Linked DNA regions of Homo sapiens. The gene in region 2 interacts genetically with the main gene of each other region. Each region holds a gene or a part of one and is shown on either strand. Other genes may lie near its edges.

Evidence for each region.
Region 1: changes in BAD (region 2) and BNIP3L together harm fitness more than expected from each alone (negative genetic interaction), as found in Homo sapiens cells (one large-scale study listed by BioGRID).

The regions. Positions count from the first base shown.
Region 1 is NC_000008.11:26,386,054-26,389,553, reverse strand, and holds part of BNIP3L (BCL2/adenovirus E1B 19 kDa protein-interacting protein 3-like), read right to left. Parts: intron 1-3,500.
Region 2 is NC_000011.10:64,278,166-64,281,665, forward strand, and holds part of BAD (bcl2-associated agonist of cell death), read right to left. Parts: intron 1-3,500. UniProt on the Homo sapiens protein: Promotes cell death. Successfully competes for the binding to Bcl-X(L), Bcl-2 and Bcl-W, thereby affecting the level of heterodimerization of these proteins with BAX. Can reverse the death repressor activity of Bcl-X(L), but not that of Bcl-2.

The sequences.
Region 1 (3,500 bases), on a different chromosome or scaffold from region 2:
ACCAATTCCTTAGGACTCTGCTGCCAAACGACACAGTTGTACAACATCTCCATGGCCTCATTCTATACACACATAAAATGGACACAGGCTAGAGAACTCAAAATGGATTAACAAATACAACTAGCAAAGCTAAGAGAGATCTAACATTGAAGATAATTTATCTCGAGTGCCTCTGGAGTGTATAAGAAATACGCCAAAAGCATCCCTAAATTTAGAGCTCTGCAACATATTTCAACTGGAGAGAAAGGGGGTGGGGGAGAGAATATGTATATAAAAACAGTTTTTTTTTCTGACTCTCACTGTTTCTAGGATTTTCAAACTTATTTTTAAACCAATGGGACCAGTTCTTCTTGTATAGAAGCCTAATGTGTACAATAGTAACAAACCAAAACCCAGAGCTGCTCTGACAGAAGCAGAGGTAAGGAACCAGGAGTTCCAGATAGGTCTCTGTGGAAGTCAGTCTTCCCTAAAATACAATTAATATTCACTTGAAGTAGGCAATCGAAGAGAAAAAAGGGTGTAACAAACAATATCAGGTTTTCTGGTCCTTACTTTTGTTTTTCTTTTGAGACAGTCTTGCATTGTCACCCAGGCTGTAGTACAGTGGCACAATCACAGCTCACTGCGGCCTTGATTCCTGGGCCCAAGCAATCCTCCCACCTCAGCCTCCCAAGAAGCTGGGACTACAGGGCACATGCCACCATGCCCGACTTATTTATTTATTTATTTATTTATTTATTTATTTAGTAGAGACAGGGTCTCCCTACATTGCCCAGGTTGGTCTCAAACTCCTGGGCTTCAGCAATCCTCCCACCTCAGCCTCCCAAAGTGCTGGGCTTACAGGTATGAGCCACTGCTCCCAACCTGGTTTTTACTTTTTTGAAGGACTTTCAAATCAATGTCTGGATCCTATTTTCTTCATTAAAAACACATAAGCAATCATAATCCAATATATACTTTTGGAACCTGAAAGAGACATACCTAGAAAAGCTTAGTAAAAGTGATCTCTGCTGTGGCCTCCACACCCTGAATCATAACTGAAAGCATTTCTACTTAAGGCGGACAATTTGTACTTGGGATACACTGGTATAGTGTGGTCAGGGGCTGAGACTGAAGCCAGGCTCCCACTCTCAGTTATAGCTGTTACCCTCGCACAGGGTACTTAACCTCTTTGTGCCTCAGTTTTCTCATCTATAAAATAGAGATAATAACTGTATCTACCTCGAAGACTTTGTTAGGAGGATTAAATGAATATAGCACGCAGAACAATAAGAAAGGTCCCTAAGAAAGTTTTAGCTACTACAATTATATTCTATATCATAGAAAAACCATTCCTTACTGGAAAAATGTGTTCCTAGAAAACGTAAACATCAGTACATAAAATTAAAAATTAACATCTCTCCCAACCTCCCGTTCCTACTCCCAAAGGAGCCACTTTTGACAGTTTCACATGGAGACTTGCAGAGTTTTTGTCAATGAAATATAGGTCTGTTTTTGCTTTTGTTTTTATAAAGAAATGGAACTGTACCATACACACATACTGACATATTCTGTAAGTCGTTTTTCAGATGTCTTCCCTATCAATATATACTGACATTCATTCTTTTGAACAACTGCATTGCATCTCATCTTTTATAAAGATATACCATACTTTAACCATTATCTAAATGGCAATGGTTAACTACTACTGAGATGGTTGTTTCTAATACTTTGTTATTACAATTAGGGCTTCAGTGAACATTCTGGAGAATAATTTGACAATAGGTATTAACAGCCTTAAAAGTGTAGATTTCCTTTAATTAATTAAGGGTAATTCTCTTTCAAAAATATCATCTATGGAAATACATAGTGGTACAGAGAAAGTTATGTACACAGGCATTAAGAGGCTACATATTAATCTTTTGAGTAACACATAAAAAAGCAAATGTGTCTTCCTCAATAGATGAACAACACGTCTGTTTCCCATCACCCGATTTGTTCCTGATTTACAGCCTCAGAATTTCTTAGTGTTCTAACTCTACCAATCCTCACAAAGTCCCTTTTTACTTGGAAAGGAAACAAGGCTAGATAAGAGGTTTGTGCTGTCCAAGCAACACAAAGTAGAAAACAACCACAGAGTGAATTCTCCTCCTAATGATCAAGCTTGAAAACTAAAAGCTGGAAGCTTTCTCCATTATCTAAAAGACTTTACAAACTAAGAGCTGTTCCTTATGCCAATTTGTACATAACATACAATGACATGAGATATTTTCTGGTTTGGGTTTTTGGGAATGACTAAGAGATTCAGAGAAACTTCTGTGAATGCTTCTCCGTTCTCTAACATAATAGACTGTGAAGGGTGGTCCAATAATTGTGATTATACTCATTGCCGTATGTTGTATAATCTTTACAGTTTTATAATCACTAGTTCAATCCTCTTGCAAGAAGAAGAAGAGAGGAGCTTTGGGACAAGGGGAGGAGAGAATGAAGAGTATTTCTCCTCATCTTTCCCCCTAACTTTTCAAGGCCCACATGTAACTCTTTTGAAATTTCATTATATTTACATTCTTTCCTCAAAGCTTTTCATTCATTATTGAAAGGAATCCAGACCAGGCCAACCTGATGCTGAAATCCAGACCAGGCCAACAAGAGTTACTGGCATTCTTCTTAAATAAAAAAATAAATAAATAAATTTTTGAAAAGTTGGTCTTTTTGCAGCAGTATGTATTTACATACAAGTTACGTAGGTATTCAAAACATTATTATGAGGCAGTGACAATCCATGAAGGCCTTAAGAGCACTCTTCATAACAAGAAAGCAAGGACATTGTGCTTGAAGATGTTTCTATTTAAAAAAAAGAGTTTGTGACCAGCTTGGGCAACAAAGCAAAACTCCATCTCTACAAAAAATAAGTTAGCCGGTGACCAGCCTGGGTGACAAAGTGAAACTCGAACTCTACAAGAAATAAAATAATTAGCTGGATGTGGGGGTGCACACCTGCAGTCCTAGCTACTTGGGAGGCTGAGGCAGGAGGATCACTTGAGCCCAGGAGGTCTAAGCTGCCATGAGCTATGACTGTACCACTGCACTCCAGTTTGGGTGACAAAGCAAGACCCTGTCTCAACAAAACAAAAAACAAAAAAGAACAAGAAAATTTGAAAAGAAAAAAAAGGCTATACTTCTCAACAACAAGAATTATACTACGATTTACACTACTACTTTGATTTTCCTTATTCGGCCCTATTGAATCTTATTCAAACATTCTTAAGGAAGTTGATAGTTTTCTTAACAATAAAACAAACTGGACAACATCCTTTTGACTTGGAAGGAGTTTGGGTATTTGCCCTGTAATTTTTAATGAAAGTGAACAGTCTCTCCACAGCGGTAAAGTTAAAAAAAAATCACAAAAATACTTCACTATTCAAATACTTCAGTAATTTGCTATTGAAACCCTGCTTTGACCCCTGAACCAAAGATAAAATCCCAAACGCAAGATAATCTGTACATTTCTTCTCCTGTTT
Region 2 (3,500 bases):
CGCCTGTAGTCCCAGCTACTTAGGAAGCTGAGGTGGGAGGATGGCTGGAGCCCAGAAATTTGAGGCTTTATAAATATATAAAGCCAAGAATGTACATAAAGGCAAGAAAATCACTTGAACCTGGGAGGTAGAGGTTGCTGCGAGGCGAGATTGCACCACTGCACTCCAGCCTGGGCGACAGAGTGAGGCTCCATCTTGGAAAAAAAAATTATATATATATATTTATATATAAATATATATATACATAAATAATAACAATGGCAGTTCTAATAATAAGAGCCGCAAACACTTAGCCCCTCCTCTGCGCCAGGCACTGTTTCCAAGCACTTTTCCTATATTAACTCATCAGGTCCTCGCCACAGCCCTGCGAGGTGGGACTAGTTCTATTCCCGTTTACAGATGAGGAAACTCAGGCAGATGGAGTTAATTAACCTGCTCAAGCTCAACCTGCTAGGAAGGGTAGAGCCACGTTTGAACCCTGCAGTCTGGCCCAGGGGCTAGCACTGGGCTGCTTCTTTCTGCCTCTCCACTGTCCACACCTGTTTCAGACACTGGGCTGTGTGGGCTGTCACAGCACAAGGTGGCTGCAGTCCCTGCCCTGGGGACACCTCAGCCATCCAGCAGGGGGGCCTGGTGGCAGGGACTATGAGGAGTGACCGAACCAAGTGTGAGTTGCTCTGCGCAGGTAGAGAGGGCAGAGGCCCCGTGGCTCTGGCGGGGCACTGGCACTTGCTGATCTTTTCTGGGAAACCACTTGCTTTTGGAGACACTGAAAACTAAATCAAAAGGTTAAGAAATCCAGCTCTGTCCTCACCTGGCAGCTGTCTTCTCCCGCAGCCCTCTTTCCTACGGGTCTGCAGCTGGGGCTGGGGGGAGGTGTCGTCCCTGGCCTGTGCAGAATGTTACTCCTGTCCTCTGCCACTCCACCAGCACCCTGTCTCCTTTCTGTACCTTGCTACTCCTTCTACCATGATCTTGTCCCACTCTCCCCTCAGACTCATTCCCAGGGACATAACCTAGGCCTTGTCACCATCAAATAACTCCATCCCAAGCTTCCCACCAGCTGACCCAACCTGTGTGGATCATGCCCCCGGGACCCCAACTCCAACGATGCTGCGGCTTCCCAGGGCTTGCTCCCTTCCCTGAAGCTCAGCCAGCTTGGACCCCACATCTACCATTCCTTCCTTTGCACACACCTGAAGCCCCTACCCCTAACTGGACTGAGACAAGCACAACTCTGGTTCAGACTCCAAGTCCCTGCCAGCTCCCACTAGCACCCTGCTAAAAATCCCACCAGATGCTTAAAAGCCACCTCTAGCGGCCAGACGCGGTGGCTCATGCCTGTAATCCCAGCATTTTGGGAGGCTGAGGCGGGTGGATCACGAGGTCAGGAATTCGAGACCAGCCTGGCCAACATGGTGAAACCCCCGTCTCCACTAAAAACACAAAAATTAGCTGGGCATGGTGCATGCCTGTAATCCCAGCTACTGGGGAGGCTCAGGCAGGAGAATGGCATGAACCCAGGAGGTGGAAGTTGCAGTGAGCCGAGATCGTGCCACTGCACTCCAGCCTGGGTGACAGAGTAAGACTCTATCTCAAAAAAAAAAAAAAAAAAAAAATCCCCCTCTATCCCACCCTCTAGGGTAGCCTCCAGATCCTCCCTCACCCTTCAGTGTTTCTTCTCCATTAAAAGCAACTTCATCCTACCGGGTGCTCAAGCCAGATTCCTTGGTGTTGGCTGGGCACTGTGGCTCATGCCTGTAATCCCAGCACTTTGTGAGGCCAAGGTGGGAGGATCACTTGGGGCCAGGAGCTCAAGACCAGCCTGGCCAACATAGCAAGACCTTGTCTCTAAAATTAATAATAATTTGGCCAGGCGCGGTGGCTCACGCCTGTAATCCCAGCACTTTGGGAGGCCAAGGCGGGCGGATCACAAGGTCAGGAGATCGAGACCATCCTGGCTAACATGGTGAAACCCCATCTCTACTAAAAACACACAAAAAAATTAGCTGGGCATGGTGGCGGGAGGCTGTAGTCCGAGCTACTCTGGAGGCTGAGGCAGGAGAATGGCGTGAACCCGGGAGGCAGAGCTTGCAGTGAGCTGAGATGGTGCCACTGCACTCCAGCCTGGGCGACAGAGCAAGACTCCATGTCAAAAATAAAATAAAATAATAATAATAATAATAATAATAATTTTTTTTTTTGAGACGGAGTCTTGCTCTGTCGCCCAGGCTGGAGTGCAGTGGCACCATCTCGGCTCACTGCAAGCTCTGCCTCCCGGGTTCATGCCATTCTCCTGCCTCAGCCTCCCGAGTAGCTGGGACTATAGGCACCCACCACCACGCCCGGCTAATTTTTTGTATTTTTAGTAGAGACGGGGTTTCACCGTGTTAGCCAGGATGGTCTTGATCTCCTGACCTCGTGATCCGCCCGCCTCGGCCTCCCAAAGTGCTGGGATTACAGGCGTGAGCCACCGCGCCTGGCCTAATTTATTTTATTTTTATTTATTTTTTGTTTTTTGAGACGGACTCTTGCTCTGTCACCCAGGCTGGAGTGCAGTGGCAGGATTTCAGCTCACTGCGACCTCCACCTCCTGGGTTCAAGTGATTCTCCTGCCTCAGCCTCTCAGGTAGCTGGGATTACAGGCGCCCACCACCACATCCAGCTAATTTGTGTATTTGTAGTAGAGACAGGATTTCACCAAGTTGGCCAGGCTGTTCTTGAACTCCTGACCTCAAGTGATCTGCCTGCCTCAGCCTCCCGATGTGCTGGGATTACAGGTGTGAGCCACCACGCCCGGCCAATAATAATTTTTTTTTTGAGACGGAATCTTGCTCTGTCACCCAGGCTGGAGTGCAGTGGTGCAATCTCTGCTCACTGCAAGCTCCGCCTCCCGGGCTCACGCCATTCTCCTGCCTCAGCCTCCAGAGTAGCTGGGACTACAGGCGCCCACCACCACGCCCAGAGAATTTTTTGTATTTTTAGTGGAGACGGGGTTCACCGTGTTAGCCAGAATGGTCTCTATCTCCTGACCTCATGATCTGCCCACCTCGAACTACCAAAGTGCTGGGATTATAGGCGTGAGCCACCGCGCCCAGCCTAATAGTTTTTTTAAAATTCCTTGGCATCATCCTGACTCCTCTCTTTCCCTCGCACCCCACATCCAGTCCATCAGCAGATCCTGCCAGTTCTGCTTTAAAAATAAATCCAGGGATCAGCTACTTCTCACCACCTCCCTGGTGACTCTCTGAATGTCTAAATCTGACCATGCTGCCTCTGCTCAAATCCTTTCCAGGTTTTTACTCAAAGGCAATGCCAGAGTCCTTAGAATGACCTTCAACTTTAGGTCTCCAAATACCCTTTCCTAAACCCCCTCCCCTAGGCCCACCCTAGCCAGGAGCAGGTGTTGCCCTCGAGGCCTTACCATCTGCCCTTCTCTCTGCCTGGAACTCTCTTCCCATCATCCCTGTGGCCTTGGCTCCAGTGGTGCTTCTCACCAA